Regions from separate parts of the Homo sapiens genome. Here region 2 is linked to region 1. The links come from fine-mapping of genetic effects on gene expression. Tissue or cell type: sun-exposed skin. Region 1 holds a variant in brackets; the other region holds the start of a gene. All regions are shown on one strand. Distances are between the middles of the regions.

The links. PIP is the estimated chance that this variant, and not a neighbour inherited with it, causes the effect.
Region 2: GRIN2A starts here. The variant in region 1 is fine-mapped to the expression of GRIN2A in sun-exposed skin (GTEx, PIP above 0.99).

Annotation. Positions count from the first base shown.
Region 1 is chr16:10,250,249-10,258,372 of GRCh38, forward strand. LOC105371078 (a long non-coding RNA gene) reads right to left here and starts at 2,395. Exons shown (of 3, transcript XR_001752077.1): 1 at 2,066-2,395. The variant T/C (reference allele first, on the strand shown) is at 3,521.
Region 2 is chr16:10,180,427-10,186,988 of GRCh38, forward strand. GRIN2A (glutamate ionotropic receptor NMDA type subunit 2A) reads right to left here and starts at 2,002. Exons shown (of 13, transcript NM_001134407.3): 1 at 1,451-2,002; 2 at 1-3. RefSeq lists silencers at 1,090-1,199, 1,210-1,269.

The sequences.
Region 1 (8,124 bases):
GGGTAGGGGGGAAGCTGAGAAGGGCAGGAGGGGAAGCCTGCACAGCACCTTCGCTGCTAACTAGGCGAGGGGGAGCATTGGAGAGCTGCTACCTCCAGGGCAGCTGCAGCCTCCTGCAAGGTTATCTGTGGCGGGCACAGGCTCAAAAGCAACGGGGCAATAAAAGTGAGTCATTGTCACCCAGCATGAGCCAACTCAGCCACTCGGGGCTCGGTGAAACATGTCCCCAGATGCAAAGTTACTCAAATTCTGGAATGAGTTTTGCCTGAATAAAGGACATTAAAATGTCCGTGCCCATAAAGACCGGCTGCTGTGCAGTGCCAGCATGGCTGATGGAGCCAGGGTGATCAGCTGACAAGCACCACCTGAAACGAGCTTCGGGCTGGAGACAGACAGTGCCATACCCTCTAGAGACATCTGTCCTCAGGCTCCTAACCCAGCTCTGTGGCTGCCTGGCTGTGTGCCCTTGGGCAGGGACATCACCTCTCTGATCTTCGCTCCTCTAAATGATCTCTAAGGGCCCTCATACACGGAAATTCCATGTAACAGCAACAAAGAGCCTGTGTGTTACTCTTCCCAGGGTTGGTGTTTGCATTTTAACAAAAAGTGTCTGCACTCTCCAGCAGCCTACTGATGAAGTGTACAGGTTCCTGAATCCAGTTGTTCAGGTTCAAATCCCGGTCCCGTCATTTATTAGCTCTGTGACTTCAGGCAGGTTGCTTAACCTCTTTGAGCCTCTGTTTCTTCACACCAAGGATAACACAACCAACAGAAAGGCAGGGAGTCTTATTCCAAATACGCAGGTATCCACCTTTTGATTGGGTTCCCCAGTGATTCCAGGCATCTTTTGGCTAAGGTTTCTGGAACCTTCTGTTTGGAGCAGAAATTGGAGCATCATACTGGCTACTGCCATTTGCTGTGCGGATAAGTTTGCAGAGGCCCTCAGCCATCATGCTCGCTCTCTCTCATTACACTGCATTTTCTCCTTTGTAACATCTACTATGATCCAGAATTACCTAGTAAATTTATTTACTCATTTATTATCCATATCTCTCCCCTGGATTTAAGCTCCATGAAATCACAGACCCCATCTAGCTCATGACTATCGATTCCCATAGCATAGCATCAGGCACACAGCAGGTGCTCAATACACCTGTGGCTAAACGAACAAATGAACGGATGAACGAATGAATTGCCCTTATCTAGATGCTTCTCACCTCAGCCTTCCCAAAGTTTCTCCGTATCCCTGCTTTGCAAAAAAGGAAACTGAACCCTCTGGGGTGGAAATGACCCAAAGTCACAGGGCAGTGGCTGGTACACAGGTCTGACTAACTCAAAACCCCACGTGTCACCCCCTTCCAGGAAGGTGTAGACAGAAGCACCAAAAAGGGGTTAGGGGCAGGAGCTTTGGGTCTGTCCAGCCCAAGTTCCATTCTAGCACTCCTTGGGCAAGTCACTTAACCTGAGGCTCGGTGTCCTCATCCACAACATGATGATGATACCATTAACATGTTCTTCATCAGAGTGAGAGTCTCAGGACGATTAAGCCTACTTTGCACAGCGCTGGGCACAGAGCAGGCCCTCAATAAATGGCAGCTGTTGTTCATTACTACTTCTACTGCAAGCTTTTCATTTTTTTTTTTTTTTTTAATTTTTAGTAGAGACAAGGTCTCACAATGTTGCCCAGGCTGGCCTCGAACTCCAGAGCTCAAGCGATCCTCCCGCTTACGCCTCCCAAAGCACTGGGATCACAGGCGTGCACCACCATGCCAGGCCTACTATGTCCTTTCCAAAAACCACACGGGGCTGGCCTCTTTGCCCAGCTCACCATTTTCTCTCTCATTTCACTCCCTCCTTCTCTCTGCCACCTCCACAGAGAAGCATCCCAGCACCCAAGCAAACCCCTTCCGCTCTGTTTCACTCCCCCCAGGCGGAGCCCACGCGTGGGGTCTTGTGCGCGTGGTCCCGCGGCAGCCCACAGCCCTCTGCTCTCCGTTTCAGGCTGTGCACCCCGGCTGTCCGCACTCCCGGGCCTCAGTCCTCCCCAGCCGCCCCCTCCACCCACCTGCATGCCTGTGGCACGAGTGGGCACACGTGTTCCCGTCGCATGTGGAGCCCGCACCTGTGGGAGGAGAGCCAGCCCGGGCTGCCGCCGCGGCGGCTGAATCAGGACAGCAAATCTCGCCACCCCCTCACTCCTTAATCCGTTGCAATCTGGCTTCCTCCCTACGCTGCCCGAAGCTGCCCTAGCCGGGGTCGCTGATGATTCCCACGCACCAAGTCCAGCATCTTCTCTACGGTCTGGTCCGGGTGTGTCGCTTGGGAACGTCTGATTTTCATGACCACCACCCCACCAGCACTCCCTCCGCTAACTCCCTCCTCCTCGGACCCTGCCTGCTCCCCTCGGTGCCTTCCCCACTCCATTGTGGGCCCTTCCTGTCCAGATTCTCTCACTCCCACACCTTTCCGCCCAAAGAGCATTTATGGAGCTCTTGCCCTGTGCAGAACGTTGCTGGCCTTGAAGGGGAGCAGGCGGACCCTGAAGGAGGCGGTGAGCTCCTACAGTGGGGGCTCAGACTGCAGCTTCGGTGGCCTGCAATCCGTTCCCAGCTCCTGGCCAGGTGCAGTGGCTCAGCCTATAATCTCAGCACTTTAGGAAGTTGAGGCAGGATTGCTTGAGCCCAAGAGTTCGACACCAACCTTTAAATTGTTTGCCTTTAAATTTCATTAAATTAAATTTCTTTTAAATACAAAAAATCCTGGGCTTAAGCAATCCAGGAGGCCAATTGGCCCTGCTAATTTCATTTAAATTTTTCGTTGAGATGGGTCTTGCTGCGAGACCCTAACCCTAACCTAACCCTAACCCTAACTATCTCTGCGAGACCCCATCTCTACAAAACATTAAAATGAAATTAGCCGGGCATGGTGACAGCCGTGGTCCTAACTACTTGGGAGGCTGAGGCAGGAGGATCACTTGAGCCCAGGAGTTTGATACGAGCCTGGGAACATAGCGAGACCCCTGTGTCTATGAAAAAATGTAAATGAAATTAGCACGGCATGGTGGCCTCGCCTGTAGTCCTGGCTTCTCAGGAGGCTGAGGTGGAAGGATGGTTTGAGCCCAGGAATTCAAGGCTGCAGTGAGCTATGGTCCCACCACTGCACTTCAGCCTGGGTGACAGAGTGAGATCCTGTCTCTAAAAATGAATTTTTTTTTTTTTTAATCCTAGTTCTGCTGCCTTGTTAGCTGTGTGTCTTTGGGCAGATAGCTTACCCTCGCTGGGTCTCAGTTACCCCTTGGAAAACGAGGATCACCGTGGGATTTGCGTGAATGCCTGTGAAGTGTTTAGCACTGTGGTTTGCATGACTGCCTCACCCTACTCTATTTTCTGCACAGCAGCCAGAATGATCTTGAAACATAAATTAGATCTCGGCAGCTGCTCGCCTAAAACCTCTTCAAAGGTTTCTCGTTGCCCTTAGCATAAAATCCAGGCTCTGCACGATGTTTACAAGTCCCTGGCGA[T/C]GCTCTGATCTCATGTTGGGTTACGCTTCCCTTGGTTCAGAAATCCCAGCCACCCTGGCTTTCTTTAATATTAAATTTCATTTTAAATAATTAAAATATAAAGAGTAAATTATTTAATGTACTAAATTAAATAATTTCATTTAAAATTTAATGTCTAATACCTAAATTAAATAATTTCCTTTAAAATGTAATGTCTAATACCTAAATAATTTCATTTAAAATTTAATATCGAATACATCAAGCTTGCTTCCACATCAGGACTAGTGCGGTGCCACCCCCTCCACTTGGAATGCAGAGCACTGCCTTCTGTCCATCAACCACGTGCCTCAGGTTTTCTCTCCTTCCCATCCTTCAGGTCTCAGCTTCAATGCCACCTCCTCAGGCCTTCCCTTACCACAAGGGAGGAGATACTGTCAATGTCCCACTCAGATCCTTGTCACCAGGCCAGTGGACCCACCCCCAACTGCTGTAGGTATCAGCTACTTAGGGCTCATACCTGAAACCTTCTCTAAAGGATTAACTACCTGGCTTCTCTGACTTTCCTTTCACTGAGAGCAGCCCCTCAAAAAATCACTGGCACAACAGTTGCCATCTCAGACTGCCTCTAGGGAACGGAACTTAAGATACATTTTTTTTCTTTATCTTGGTTTCTTTCAGAGCAATTATTATTATTATTATTATTATTATTGTTTTAAGACAGGGTCTTGCCAGGTGTGGTGGCTCACTCCTGTAATCCCAGCTCACTCCTGTAATCCCAGCACTTTGGGAGGTCAAAGTAGGAGGATCACTTGAAGTCAGGAGTTTGAGACCAGACTGGCCAACATGGTGAAACCCCATCTGTACTAAAAATACAAAAATTAGCCAGGCATGATGGCAGGTGCCTGTGATCCCAGCTACTCGGAAGGCTAGGGCAGGAGAATCTCTCAAACCCAGGAGGCAGAGGTTGCAGTGAGCCAAGATCGTGCCACTGCACTGCAGCCTAGGTGACAGACTGAGACTCTGTCTCAAAAAAGAAATAGGATCTCGCTATGTCACCCAGGCTCGAGTGCAGTGGCACAATCATGGCTCACTGCAGCCTCGAACCCCTGGGCTCAAGGGATTTTCCCACCTCAGGAGACTCATGACTACAGGTGCATGACACCACACCTGGCTAACATTTTATTTTATTTATTTATTTTTGACACAGAGTCTCGCTTACCCAGGCTGGAGTGCAGTGGCACAATCTCGGCTCACTGCAACCTCTGCCTCCTGGATTCAAGCAATCCTCCCACCTTAGCCTGCAGACACAGACCACCATGCCTGGCTTTTTTTTTTTTTTTTTTTTTGAGACGGAGTCTCGCTCTGTCACCCAGGCTAGAGTACAGCAATGCAATCTCAGCTCACTGCAACCTCCGCCTCCCGGGTTCAAGCAATTCTCCTGCCTCAGCCTCCCAAGTAGCTGGGACTACAGGCGCACGCCGCCAAGCCCGGCTAATTTTTTGTATTTTAGTAGAGGTGGGGTTTCACCATGTTGCCCAGGTTGGTCTTGAACTCCTGAGCTCAGGCAATCCGCCTGCCTCACCCTCCCAAAGTGCTAGGATTACAGGCATGAGCCACCACGCCCGGCCAATATTTTTTATTGTTAGCGAGGTCTATGTTGCCCAGGCTGGTCTCAAACTCCTGGCCTCAAGTAATCCTCCCACCTCCGCCTTCCAAAGTGCTGGGATTACAGGTGTGAGCCACTGCGCCCAGCCATTATTAATTTTGGAAAATATTTGGTACATTTCTTTCCTCTCTCTCCCTCACTACAGGGGAAGTTCCATGAGGGCAAGAATCACACCCGTTTAATCCATCACTTCACCCGCACACTTGGCGTGGGGGCCTGCACGTAGGAGATGCCGGAAGAGCTATTTCTTGAACTCAGGAAATGAGGCATCGTGTGTTTCCAGGGATTCCTCTCTAGTTTCCCCTCTTTTGACCTTCCTCTCAGTCCACTCTTAGATGATCCTCTTAGGATCTCAAACTCAGTGGGTCCCAGTGTTGATCCATCATCTACCCTCAGGAGAGGAGCTCTCCCCTGCCTTTTCTACCTCTGGCAGTAGCACCAGCCTTCTGGTGCCAAGGCTAGAACTCTGAGTGCCATGTCTGACTCATTCATCACAGCCATCCCCATAGCTAATCAGTGCCTGGACCTGTCTAAGACGTGTTGACATTGTCCCCTTCTCTCCTCTCCCCGAAGCTCCATGCTCACAGCCTTCAAGCCAGCCCAAGCCCCGGTTTCCTCATTCCCAAGTTGCTACAAGAACTCTTAGTAGGAACTCCCCACATCTAGCCCTCACCTCTCCTGCACCCATCTTGCACCAACCTGCTGGACTAACACTGCCAACACTCACCAGGAATCACCTCCCTCCCTCTGGTAAAAACCCTAAGAAGCCCACAGAGCCATGTCCCGTTGTCTTGCCTAACCTGGCATTCAAAGCCTCCAGTGATAAATCCTCGAGCCACCTCTTCCAACCTTGTCATTAATACTACAAAAGGTCAGGGAACACTTCTTTTAGGAGGTGACATTTCAGCCAGATCTGAACAAGGAAGAGCAACAATACAGAGCTGTTTTCAGATGTTAGGGTACTTCAGAACCCCCTGGGAATGTAAAAATATACGCAAATGCCTGTAGTGATGGAGATCGTTTGCTTGCTTGTTTCTTTCTTTGTTTTTAGCAATCCCTCCAGGACATTTTGTAGTCAGGCTTAGAAGCCACAGGTGGAGGGACAGACACACAGATGGACGAACAAAGAGACATAAATTAGTAAGTTATAACCTAACCATAAATCCCAGGCCTGAAAGCACAAAAGACCCTGCCATTCACTTTTTCTGGGAGAATCAGAAAGATGTCCAGGAGGAGAGGGTCTTTAAGCATCGTCTGAAGGGGTGAGCAGGGTTTGCAAAGCAGAAGAAAAATGGTCCTCATTAACATAGTGGAGAGTTTAAAAAAAAAAAGTGTACCCAGTGCAAAAGCTGGGAAAAAAAAAAAAGAATGGAGAAACTCACAGGCAGAGAGGGCAGCTCCTGTGAGAGGTCCCGGGCTGCGGCCAGTAGGTGACCACCAACGGGAGGCAGTGACTATATCAGGATGCCGAGGGGCCCCAGGGAGATGCGGCTGAGGTTGGAGTTGGGGCAGGTGAAGGGGAAGGACTTTGTGGGGTATCTGAGGAAGATGGAGTTTCTCCTGAGGCCACCAGGAGGCGCCAGACGTCAAGCGGGGCGGGGGGCGGGGACGGGCTCGGTAACTTTCCTCTGCTGAAAACAGCCCTGAGCAGGGTTAGCAAGGATTAGCCGTGGCAATAAAGGGCTTATAAGGAAATTAAAAGGTCTAATGAGGGCCATAAGGATGATTTATACCCTTTCTGTAGCATGCCTCTTCCTTGTACTAGAATTCATGTATGCCTTTGTCCTGTCTCCCTAATGAATTGTGGGGTACTCATAGAACTAAAACCCGTGTAATGATTAGCTGAAGCAGGGTTTCTCAACCTTGGAACTGTTGACATTTGGGGCTGGTAATTCTGTGTTGTGGGAGGTTGTTCTGTGCATGTTAGGGTGTTTAGCAGCGTCCTTGGTTTCTACTCACAAGATGCCAATGCACCTCCATCTCAACTAGTGACAAGCAAAAATGTCTCCTGACATTGCCAGCTGACCCGTGGGAGCAAAATCACCCTCAGTGGCAAACCATTGGGTTAAAGGGGTTCTGCAGGCTCTAGCAGGATCCAAATCTGGGCTCTGCCACTTCCCAAGTAGGTGATCTTGGGCAGACTACGTCACTCCTCTATGCCTCCATTTTCTCATGTATCAAGAAGGGATTTTTAAAAAGTATTGACATCAGCATCAGTGTAAGAATGAAACACAGTGATCCAGCCAGGCACAGTGATGCACGCCTGTAATCCCAGCCCTTTGGGAGGCTGAGGCAGGAGGACTGTGTGAGCCCAGGAGTTTTAGACCAGCCTGAGCTACATAGCAAGACCCTATCTCTACAGAAAACAACAACAAAAAAAATTAGCCAAGTGTGGTGGTGCACCTGTAATCCCAGCTACACAGGAGACTGAGGCGGGAGGATCGCCTGAGCCAGGAGCTCAAGGTTACAGTGAGCTATGATCATTCACTGCACTCTAGCCCGGGCAACAGAGGAAGCCCTTGTCTCTAAAAATAGAAATAATAAATTAATAAATAATAAAAATAAATACAAGGCTGGGCCCGGTGGCTCATGCCTGTAATCCCAGCACTTTGAGAGGCTGAGGCGGGAGGATCACCTGAGGTCAGGAGTTTGAGACCAGCCTGGCCAACGTGTTGAAACCCTGTCTCTACTAAAAATTTAAAAATTAGCTGGGCATGGTGGCGGGTCCCTGTAATCCTAGCTACTCAGGAGGCTGAGGCACAAGAATTGCTTGAACCCAGGAGATGGATGTTGCAGTGAGCCGAAATCGTGCTACTACAGTCCAGCCTGGGTGACAGAGCAAGATTCCATCTCAAAATATAAAAATAAATAATAAATACAATGACAAATGCGAAGGCCACAAGGTAAACACTCAATGAACACCAGGCCTCTGAGGACACAAGGGATAGTAATGGTTATG
Region 2 (6,562 bases), 71 kb before region 1:
TCCCTGCAAGGTGAAGAGTGAGAGGCAGGGCCGCGGTGAGCAAGGCGACCAGAAGAAAGGGATTACCAACTTGGCTTCCTGCTCTAGGAGCCAGGCATGGAACTCAGCAGCAGGATAGGCTGCTGGGATCACGGACTCCATTCCGAGTCCCCGACGCCATCCACATCCCTCGATCCATCTCTAACTCTATCCACAACTCCAATTCGAGCTAATTCTCCATCCCCCAGCCCCTTCTCGCATCCAGCTTCCTCATCCCCTGTCTCCAGGCACTTCCCCATCCCCATCTCTGTCCATATCCCCCACCGCATTCCCCAAGTTCGCCGCGGGCCACAGACCCTAAGCGCCGCGCGTGTTCTGTACCCCACCAAGCTCCTAGGTGCACAGAATAAACCCTCCATCCAACCCCTCCCACCTGGGATAGAGAGGACCAAGTTATCAACCCCGCCCCCTGCTGGCGCGGAGCGAACTACAGACCCCGCAGGGCGTGCGGAGGCGGCACCCAGACCCCGCGTCCCAGCTTGAGAGCTCAGCTAGTTGGCTGACCCCGCCCCCTACGAGCCCGTCGTGTGCACCACACACTTTGCTCTACGCCCAGCCCCAACTACAGACCCGGCTCCTCTCAGTCAGAGTACACCCCAAGTGCTTGGGAGTGAGGACGCTGCCTGGTGGGCCCAGGCTCCGCTGTGCCTGGGGAACTTGGGGCTCGCCCCACCTCGAGCCAAGGGGCCGTGGAGAGTCCTTCACCCCTACACGCGCGCGTGCACACACACGTGCACACACACACGCACACACACATGTTCACACACACACACCCTCTCTCACGCGCGCCGTGTGCAATGCTGAATTCTGGAGAGTAGGCGCGTCCCCCCGCGGGCCAGCGCGTAGGAGCTGGCAAAGAACGTGCGTAGGGGGAAAGGTAGGCTCCCAAGAAGCTCCCAGACGGACGTGGACTGTACAGCCCCTCCCTAGCCTTTCTACTGCGGGCGCTGTTGCCAAGTCCTAGGTGCACGTGGGCAGTGGGCCGCACACGCTCATAGGCACGCGCGCTTTTCTGCGCACTTCCTCAGACTGCTGTAGCGGTGCCCACGGCCAGCCGGAGTCCTCACATGTCCTCAGGTGGTGCACACGCATGAACTGCGGCAGGTGCACAGCCCTGCGTACCTGCAAATACCAGCACGGTCGTGCACGCGTGCCCTGACGCGCGCCTCTCGGGACGGACGCTGCTGGAGCCGGGGGAAGTTGAGGCGAACTCCAAGAGGCCTCGACGTTCCTGGGTAAGCGCCGCGGAGCGCGGAGCCGCAGCGCCCCCTGGTGCCCCTCCTGCACTTCGCCGCTGGGCTCCCTCCCGCTTTCCCTCTCCCTCTCTAGCCTGATCCCTCTCCCGCTCTCCCTCCGGTCGAGTCTCCCTCCTCCCCGGCCCAAGGAGCCCTGATCTCCCTCTGGGACGTACCTGTAGCCCGAGAAGGTCGAGGATGCAGTGGGGCGCGCTGCGCGCACGAGCATCTCGGCCGCCTCAGCAGCCACCGGGTTTAGCGGGTTCCCGCATGCTGCGGCCCCAGCGCGCTCCCCTGGCTGTCCCGCGCTGTCCGCATCGCCCCCACGGGGGGCGGCTATCCCAGCCGGAGGCTCTGCAGCAGGGCTCTAACGGGGCGGAGGAGAGAAGGAGAGGCAGGGTCAGCCCACCAACGAGGGGAGGGAGGGTTGAGGGGAAGGCTGCAGTCTGCAGTGCTCACAAGCCCCCCTATGCGCCCAGGGGGGCTAGACAAGAGGGGGGAAGCTGAAGCCCGATGCCCACGACGCCCCCAGTGCGGATCCTCAGCCCCTGTGGCTGATAGCGGGAGCTCCACTCCAGGGTGCACAGGAGAATGGGAGCCCCAGGTTGGCCACCCACGAGAAGCTAACTGGGCACCTCCACCCGCACCCCCTACCACCTCCCCAGCGCCGGCTGCTGGGAGTTGTGCGACCGGGAGCTGCTGAGCGAGGGAGGTAGGGAGAGAAAGAGGAGGTAACGAGGGTGGGGGGGCGCTGGCTGAGTTTGTGACGAGCCAGCAGTAGGAGAGGGGGAGGGAAGGACGCGGGCTCCCGCGGTCCCGGTTCCCCGAGGGAGGTGGATCTTTCCCACGCAGCGACCCTCTTGTGATCCTGCCGCTTCCTCCCTCTTCAGGCCTCCCACCTCCCCCCTTCCCAAGGGGGCCTCCCAGGCCCGGCGTCCCGCGCTAGCACTCACCGCAGCCTCTCTCCACATAGTTCTCAGCAGTGGCCGCTCCTGGTCATCTCCAGGGCTGATGGCTGCGGCCGCGATTCTCAGCGCTCACCCGGTCCCATGATCCGGCCAAGCCCTAGGAGCTCCCCTCCAAGATCCCTAGCTCCGCTTCCTGCCCCACTCCGGACGGCAACTGCCCGGTCCTCTGAGCGCGCCGGAGCACCCTCTCCGCAACCCAGCTCCGGGCTGGTGTGTTTGAGGGCGAGTGTGTGTGTGAGTGTGGGAGCGCGCTCGCGTGTGGCCGGGGATCCCCGCGGTCCCCGGCCGAGAGAGGCGCGGGCGGGGAAAGGCAGCTCCCTCCGGGCCCTTCGCTGCTGGGCCAGCTCCGCGCCGGGCGTTCGGCTCCCCACTTCCCAGCGGGAGTCCGGTGAGCGCCTGGACACCCTGGTTCACAGCACTGGCAAAGCCGGGTTCCCGGGGCGTCTTTCTGCTGCGGTCGCCTCCGAGGAAGAGGAGAAGGAAGGTAGCGGCGCCCTCCACACCAACTTAGGGACTTGTTCTCAGCCGGCGAGACGCAGTAGCCCCCGCTCAAGCCCAAGAGGCTTCGAGCTCCGGCGGGCGAAAGCGTCTCCTGCCCGCAGCCTCTCTCCTAGGTGGGTCGAGACAGACCCCGCAGTCCCTCGGCGGCGACGCGGAGCGCGGCCACCCGTTCCGAGAGCGCACGGCGGCAAATAAGGCCAGGATAGGTGGCTGGCTGGCGACGGGGGCGCCTGCGGCGGCGCGCGCTGCTGTCCGTGGTGTTGGAACCACGCTCTCCGCCCGCTCCCGGGCGTCTGGTGCGGCTGAAGAATCAATTATTCAGATCTCTGCTACCGCTTCCTCCTCCCCCAGTGCCTCGCGCTGGGTACAGTTATCCCCCTCCACGCACAGGCGCGCCGACACACACACACACACACACACACACACACACACACACACAGAGTCTGCTCCAATGCTTCTCCCTGTGCCTCGCCACCCCCGTACGGGAACCCACTCCTCTGATCTCAGGGAGCCAGAATCCTAAAAGCAAAGACATCTGCATTTCCCACATGCTTCCTTCTAAGTTCTACCAAACAGAAGCCTCCCTGAGGCTGCCACTTCTAAGCTACCAGAAGAGGTGAGCCAGAGAACATGGGACGGCCCGGGTGTGTGAGGGCTTGGTTGACTTGAATTCTAGCGACTGGGCATGAAATACATGGTCAAGGGAGGAGCTCTGCCCCTTTTATATTCACCTGTATCTCCAACGCCTGTCTGCCTTTCAGGCCTTGGAAGGAAAGGGGTCTTAAATTCTAAGAGGTTTTGCAATGACTGTTCCAACCCTGCCTCCTCCACTTAACCTAATGTCACCTGCTGCGGTCTAAATGTGTGTGTTCCCACCCCCAAATTCATAGGATAAAATCCTAACTCCCAAGGTGATGGTATTAGGAGGTGGGGACTTTAGGAGGTGACTTCATGGCTTCATGAGAGTAAAATGGGATTTGTGGTCTTATAAAAGAGATGCCAGAGAGTCAGCTAGGTCCTTCCACCAAGTGAGACTTAATCAAGAAGGCATCGGCCTATGAACAGGAACTAGGCCCTCCCCAAATACTGAGTCTGCTGCTGCTTCATCTTGGACCTCCCAGCCTCAAGAAGTGAGAGAAATAAACTTCTGCTGTTGATGATGTTTTGCTATGGCACCTGGATCAAACTAAAATATCACTTTTGGACATTATATTACTTCCCTTTATTGATCACTAATCTGGAAATGGGGGGCAGTAAAAACATCTACTTCTCAGGATTATTTTGAAAAGAAAAGGAAGTAGCCTTAATAAAGGGGTCAACAAGGTCTGGCACATAGTAGATGCTCAATCAACATCATGCACCTTGAAGTAGCCTGGAAGCAGGGGAACTTCTTCCAAGAATGTGGATGTGGCTGCTGAAATGGAGACAGGAGAGGGGCACAGTGTGTGGAGACAAATGGATTCATTATTGAGCTGGTTGTTCTATGCTGGGTTTCCTGGGTTTTTGTTTTTGTTTTTTTTTTAATCCAAAAGACAGAGAAAGCGTGAGGGAAATGCTGGAAAGTAAATTAAAATGGGGGATTGTATAATATAAGGCAGGGAACAGGAAAATGTTTCCTTTCTTGAGTCTATGGCTGGGCTGAACTGATTAGGCCACTCCTTGGCACCCATGCAAGACTCTGGCTTGGGGTCTAAAGGGGAAGTTAGGCCATTTTATTTAAATGAGTTATAAATTATAGACAATAAAATGCATATCTCTCAAGGGTTTCATTTGTGAAGGTTTTTTGGTGTTTTTTTATTTTTTTGTTTGTTTGTTTTGTTTTGTTTTGTTTTTTTGACAGGGTCTCACTCTTGCCCTGGCTGGAGTGCAGTGGTGTGGTCGTAGCTCACTATTAACTTGAACTCCTAGGCTCAAGTGATCCTTCTGCCTCAGCTTCCCAAGTAGTTAGGACTTGTGGTGGTTAGCACATGCCACCACATCTGGCAAATTTTTTATTTTTTGTAGCCATTGGGTGTTGCTATGTTGTCCATGCTGGTCTCAAACTCTTGTCTTTACGAAATCCTCTGGCCTTGGCCTCCCAAAGGCTGAAATTACAGGTGTGAGCCACTGCACCCAGCCAGTTTGTTACTTTTGAGATTGTGTGTATCCACATAGACCGTCACGTAAAATGAGGTACAGAGTATTTTCATCACCACCAGGAAGTTTTCTTGTGTCCCTTTGTTGTCAATCCCACTCCCCCCATTCAGTGTAAACTACAATTTTGATTTCTAATACCATGTATTAGTTTTGCCCTTTTCTGAACTTCATATAAGTGGAATTTTACACTATGTATTCTTTGGTGACTGGCTTTTTTCACTTACCCTGATGTCTAGAAGATTCCTCTGTGTTGTTGCATGTATCAACAGCTTTTTTATTTTTTATTGTTGAGCAGCTAGCTCTCTATTGCATGGATAAGCCACACTTTGTGTATCCAGTCTCCTGCAATGGATATGTGGGTTTTATCTATGGGACTTTTTAAAATACAGATGTGGCTGGGTGCAGTGGCTCACGCCTGTACTCCCAGAACTTTGGGAGGCTAAGGCAGGAGGATCACTTGAGCCCAGGAGTTTGAAACCAGCCTGGGCAACATGATGAGAGCCCAGGAATTTGAAACCAGCCGGGGCAACATGATGACAACCCAAGTGTTCACACTGCTGCACTCCAGCCTGAGTGACAGAGTGAGACTTTGTCCCAAAAAAAATAAATAAAGAAAATAAAACACAGATGCCTATGCCCACTCTAGATCTACTCCATCAGGATCTCCAGGTGTGGGGCCAAGCACGGACAGTTATTTTAGATCCATAGGGGATTCTGATGATGCCTCTGCACTTGCTATTCTCATAAATTGATGCTGACCCTGAAATTGGATTTGTCTTTCTTGAAAAATACTGGTATTCAGGGTTTTAAGTTATTCATGATCAGACTTATAGAAAGATAAATCAAACTGATACGGCCTCTTTTGAATAGAGAAAGAAGGCAGCCCTTCATTGGAAGGGACACTGTGCCTCTAAACATAGGCACAGGAGGCTGGAGTTGCACTGGGGTGGACATGTCACCAGGGTGGAGCACATCGTGTGTCAGGCACCTGGAACTTCACCATACATGCAGAGACTGTGACAGCGTGTATAAGATCATGACAGCCTTACTCCATCTATGCTGCCAAGCTTAATTCTCAATGCAGCTTAGGATGCTAAGCAGAATTTTGCTGCTCAAAGAGTTTCAGATGATAAGAAAAACTTCTTCATAGCAGCTATATCAACTGTGATGGTTAATACTGAGTATCAACTTGATTGGATTGAAGGATGCAAAGTATTGTTCCTGGGTGTGTCTGTGAGGGCGTTGCCAAAGGAGATTAACATTCGAGTCAGTGGACTGGCAGACCCACCCTCAATCTGGGTAGGCACCGTCTAATCAGCTGCCAGCACAGCCAGAATAAAAGCAGGCAGAATATGGAAAGACTAGACTGGTTCAGTTTTCTGGCCTCCATCTTTCCCCTGGGGCTGAATGCTTCCTGCCCTGGAACATCGGACTCCAAGTTCTTCAGCTTTGGGACTCGGACTGGCTTCCTTGCTTCTCAGCTTGAAGTCTATTGTGAAACCTCACCTTGTGATCATGTGAGTCAATATTCCTTAATAAACTCCCCTTTAGTCTGGGCACGGTGGCTCATGCCTGTAATCCCAGCACTTTGGGAGGCCGAGACGGGTGGATCACCTGAGGTCAGGAGTTCAAGACCAGCCTGACCAACATGGTGAAACCCCAGCTCTATTAAATACAAAAAAT